2 separate regions of the Homo sapiens genome follow, and region 1 is linked to region 2. The links come from fine-mapping of genetic effects on gene expression. Tissue or cell type: whole blood. Region 2 holds a variant in brackets; the other region holds the start of a gene. All regions are shown on one strand. Distances are from middle to middle.

Region 1 (2,681 bases), 41 kb after region 2:
GTAGGGGAAGGGGTTAGCAAGTCATGTGACAGCCGGCAAACGCCATTCCCCTCCCCCAACCTCCACCCACCCCGCATTGTAAAGGCGTTGCGCCCGGGGTTAGCCTTTAGGGTGGGGGTGTCAGCTGGTTTCATGCCTCCTGTTCCTCTGCCCTGCGCCCTGGCCCAGTCATTCTCGGCTCGAAGTGTTCTTCTATTCAGTGAAATACCCAGGAGGCCTTCCACCCAAGCGAAGGCGAGTATCAGACACGGGCTACCACCCTAGTAAGAAGAAGGCACCTGCCCACGTATAGTTGGAATTCATCTAAAATTCACTTAGTGCTTACTGTGTGCCAGACGCTGAGGGGCGTCCTGCAGATTCAAAAGCGCCCCAGGCCCGGCGCGGTGGCTCACGCCTGTAATCCCAATACTTTGGGAGGCCGAGGTGGGCGGATCACCTGAAGTCAGAAATTCGAGACCAGCCTGGCCAACACGGTGAAACCCCGTCTCTACTAAAAATACAAAAATTAGCCGGGCGGGCCGGGCGCGGTGGCTCACGCGTGTAATCCCAGCACTTTGGGAGGCCGAGGTGGGTGGATCACGAGGTCAATAGTTCAAGACCATCCTGGCCAATCTGATGAAACCCCGTCTCTACTAAAAATACAAAAATTAGCCGGGCGTGGTGGCGCACGCCTGTAGTCCCAGCTACTCGGGAGGCTCAGGCAGGAGAATCGCTTGAACCCAGGAGGCGGAGGTTGCAGTGAGCCGAGATCGTGCCACTGCACTGCAGCCTGGCGACAGAGTGAGACTCAGTCTCAAAAAAAAAAAAAAAAAAATTAGCCGGGCGTGGTGGTGCGCGCCTGTAATCCCAGCTACTCGGGAGGCTGAGGCAGGAGAATCACGTGAACCTGCGAGGCGAAGTTTGCAGTGAGCTGAGATCGTGCCATTGCCATTGCACTCCAGCCCGGGCGACAGAGACTCTGTCTAAAAAAAAAAAAAAAAAAAGCGCCCCAGATACGGCCCCTTCTTCCAAGAAGACCCAAAGCTGGCAGAGCTGGGCGGGACAGCCGCAGAAGGGGAAGCCAGGTGAGAACACCAGCACCGGCCGAGGGCTCCGTCCCGAAAGGCCTTCCCCGCTGCTGCCCGGCTTACTCTCGAAGGGTCCAGCGCCCAGACCGCCCTGCCGGAGGGGTCCGCGCCCCCAGGCCGGGCCCTCCCCTCCCCGCCCGCACTCACTGCGTCTTCCTGCGGCCCTGGTCGCGGTGCAGATCCCGCAGGTCCACCTCGGCGCGGCCCAGGAACTTGTCGAGGCCGAGCAGCGCGCGGTGCAGCACGGTGAGCTGCAGGGTGGCGGCGGCCGCGGGTCCGGAGGACAGCAGCGATGGCAGCTCGAAGGTGGCCTCCTCGCGCCACACGGGCGCGCCCAGGCTGCGCTCCGACACGGAGGTGGCGTACTTCTCCTTGCCCACCTGGATCACCGCGTACGCGTCGCTCGTGCCCCCGGGGCCCTTGGCCCGCAGGCCCCGCGCCTGCAGCACCGTCACCTGCACGTGGGTTGGGGACCACACGGCCCCCAGGCCCCGGCCAGCCGAGACCATTAGGGACATGGTGACGATAACACTCCAGAAGCGAGGAGAAGATCGCCGCGACTGGCGGCCTCCACGGCCCGCCCCGGCGACCAGGCCACTTTAAGGCTTCCGGCCACACCCCCGCCAGGCCACGCCCCTCATGGCCAAGGCCACGCCCCTGCCCGAGCCGCCTGCTCCACCTGCTGCGCCGCGCCCCGCCCCGCCCCGCCCCGCCCCGCCGGCCTCAGCAGCGCGGGCAGCTCCGGGCACCCGGGCGCCGGAGGCGGGGCTGGCGCGGCCAGGCAGGCAGGGGATCACGTGCGCAGGGGCGGGCGCATCGAGAATCTAATCTGAGAGGTGGTAGGTGACGGATGGGGTCCCCAGCTGCCAAAGGTCGCACGGCGGGAAGGAGCTGGCCGAAGCACTGACTTGGAAGTCAGACCTCATTTCCAGGGTCACATCGCCAGTCGTGGCCTTGCGCGGATTACCTAACATCAAGTCTCAATTTCTTCACCTGACAATCACCTCCTAGGATTGCTGTAAAAAATAATAATAATAATGCATTACAGTTCTTGGCCCAGTGCCTGGCTCATGGTGAGTTCTCAGTAAATAACCATGACCAGCACGTTGGGAGGCTGAGACAGGAGGATCTCCTGAGCCCAGGAGTTCGAGACCAGCCTGGGCAACATAGCCAGATCCCCGTCTCTACAAAAAAAATTAAAAATAATTAGATAGGAGTGGTGGCAAGCGCCTGTGGTCCCCGCTACTTGGGAGGCTGAGTCTGGAGGATCTCTGGAGCCCAGGAGGTCGAGGTGCAGTGAGCCGAGATCGTGCCACTGCACTCCCAGCCTGGGCAACAGAGCAAGACCCTGTCTCAAAAAAATAAAGTTGGTAACTATGAGGGTGCTAAGGAAGATGCCCACCCAATTCACTGTGCTTTCTACTTCTCCCGCTGGAAAGCCTTGCTCTGGAGGAAGGCAGCTGCAGAGGAAGGTGAGGACCTTGTGAGGGCCGGAAAAGGGGAAGGTATCCTGGGGAGCATGAGTTCAATGTGGGAGTGTCCTATTTTGCCCTCCCCCCACCAGATAAGGCGAGGCTGAGTTAGAAAAAGGGAAGAAAGGAGGAACTGAAAATG
Region 2 (2,681 bases):
AAAAATCTAGAGTAAGTGAGCAGACAGGGGAGTGGAGGAGGGGAACAGCGTCTATTGCTCCTCCAGAATGGAGCACAAGGGAACTCAGGTCACCTAAGAACAACTGGGGCCCACCTAGCCGAGTGACTGGGTGCCTCTAGACCTTTGGGGCTTGACTTCGACTCAGAATTCTGGATTTGGGAAAGTTCACCTTTTATGTTGTTCATATATCCTATAATTATTTCCCTTATTTTCTTGTTTTTTTTTTTTTTTTTTGAGACAGAGTCTTGCTCTGTCACCCAGGCTGGCGTGCAATGGCATGATCTTGGCTCACTGCAAGCTCTGCCTCCTGGGTTCAAGCAATTCTCCTGCCTCAGCCTCCCAAGTAGCTGGGATTACAGTCATCCACCACCATGCCCGGCTAATTTTTGTATTTTTAGTAGAGACGGGGTTTCACCATGTTGGCCAGGCTGGTCTTGAACTCCTGACCTCCAGTGATCCATCCGCCTTGGCCTCCCAAAGTGCTGGGATTACAGGAGTGAGTCACTGTGCCAGGCCTGGTTTTTTGTTTTTTTTTTAAAGCTTTCCATTACTAGCTGCTGGGCTAAGGGGACTCAAAAGAAAAGATGGTTGTGTCTCCCTCCTTGGGCTGGAATTTGAAAAATATAATAGCCTGGCCCTGAGGGCTGGGTTTGGTGGCAATAGCAGGAACCAAACAGAACTCCAAAGCAAGGGGAATAAATCTGAGAGAGAAAAGTTGGGGTCATTTGTGTAATTAAACTTTCCTTCCTTGAAGACCTTCCATTTAGAGGGTTGTTTTATTAAGAGATTTAATAAATAAAATAAAATTTATTAAGTGTCTTCATGTCACTACACATGGCAGTCGATGTCCACTTGGAATCACCAGGCCTCTCCACCAAAACCAGGGAGGCCTTCAGGGAAGCTCCCCCATCCCAGCCCAGGAGTCTCACAGGCACCGCCTGCCTCTGTCTCTCTACAATGTGACTCATCTCTAAGAGCAAAGGTATCACTTCCATTCCAAGAGGTCTGGGACCTTGGAGTGTGGACCACGTGCACCGCTCGCGGGGCAGGCACACCTCTCACCTCCTTGGGAAAGGCCTGGGGTTTGGAGAGATGAACTCCAGGAGACTCCTGTGCATCCCTAATACCCTCTATTCACACATGGACAAACTAAGTCAACTGAACAAGGACCTGGTTCCCAGATGGGGCAGTTGAGCCCAGCCTGAATTCAACTCATGCCCCCAAAGTGAAGACATCACTCTGTGGGAACCTGTGTGTGTGGTGGGGGTGGGAACTGAGGAAAGACCCTGTCCAAATGCTCAGCCAAGGGTACCGGCTGCAAAGGAAAAGGGGGCAGCACGTTCCAACTCAGTTTCTCTGGCCAGTGCCATGGTCCCTCAGGCCAAGATGAAGGGTGCATCCGAAGGGACCAGACATGTCCGTCCTCTTTGAGAAAAAGGGC[C/G]TTGGGACTCCTGGGAACCAGGCAAGATGGCAGCAACAGAAATCCCAGTGAGAGACCCTCATGGGATGAGAAACACTGGTCATCCCCCCACCCCCACCAAGAGAGGTTTTCCAGGAAGACAAAATAAATTTTTATTGCACCCATACCAAACTACAGACACAAATCTTTGAAAGGTAAGTACCATTTTATTTAGTGTTGTAGGAAATGTTGGGTTACTTCTTAAAAACGAAACCAAAGAAATTCAAAAGTCCCAAAGAAAGAAAGCAGGAAATAATAATTCTATAATCCAAAAACGTTGGGCGATCCTTCAGTTGGAGGAAGAGGGCGTCAGTTAAGTAGCTCACACAGTAGATATGGAGACACCATATGGAGATACGGAGTTAAGTTTGGTGGATACTAGGAATTAAGTTCTCCACCTAAGGCAATTAATTTTTCAGCCTTGAGAGATAATTAGTAGTTCTAGAAAAAGAAAAAAAGTTGACTGGGAGAAGGGTGGGAGGGAGGATGGTGCGTCATTTAACATTAAATTGCCTCTCTCTACAGTATGTGGCTGAGCATCATGGACCTTCCTCCCTCTGCCCCGTTGAGCTCCCACTGTTAGCAAAACTGAGAAGCACATGCCTGTGTCTTCTTCATACCGGCATGTGCACACACACCTGTATCTCCTTCATACAGGCATATGCAGAGCCCTCACCAATCGGGGTCCACAGCTGTTCAGTATGGCAAAGGGCAGACTTACTCCTTCATCCACTCTGCTGCCTTGATGAGGTGAACACACTGGAATAAGATGGAGGGCAGGATACCTGCCAAAGCCTGAGGCATGAGATGATCTGAAACAATTGGGCAAAGGCTGGACATTTCAAAAAGCTGACTTCCAACTGCAGTTTATGGGTATAGAATTTGATGCTTCCCTCAAGTCCTGACTGCTCTTTCTGAGGCAGCCAGGCTAGGCCAAGAAATGAGCTGCTCCAGCTTCTCCAGAGCACAGCAGCCTCCCAGGGCCTGTCAGCATCTGCAGCAGCTGGAAGGAGGTCCCAGCTCTTCTGAGACATAGGCCATTTGTAGGATTCTCCAGTGCTCCAATTCACTAATGTCTCCTAATGGCTCAGAACAGGCTAAAGCTTCTCCCAGATAACCCCTCCCCCAAAACTGAGTCCTCAGGGACAGTTGTTAACTGAATGACCTCCAGGTTATCTACTTTGGGAGGTGCAGGAATGCT

What was found. PIP is the estimated chance that this variant, and not a neighbour inherited with it, causes the effect.
Region 1: RAB11FIP1 starts here. The variant in region 2 is fine-mapped to the expression of RAB11FIP1 in whole blood (TOPMed, PIP above 0.99).

The regions. Positions count from the first base shown.
Region 1 is chr8:37,897,857-37,900,537 of GRCh38, forward strand. RAB11FIP1 (RAB11 family interacting protein 1) reads right to left here and starts at 1,641. Exons shown (of 6, transcript NM_001002814.3): 1 at 1,215-1,641. The coding sequence starts at 1,585. RefSeq lists silencers at 1,026-1,455, 1,676-1,905.
Region 2 is chr8:37,857,322-37,860,002 of GRCh38, forward strand. RAB11FIP1 (RAB11 family interacting protein 1) reads right to left here. Exons shown (of 6, transcript NM_001002814.3): 6 at 1,297-2,681. Among named protein-coding and RNA genes, the nearest start is that of BRF2, 8.8 kb to the left of the region's middle. The variant C/G (reference allele first, on the strand shown) is at 1,463.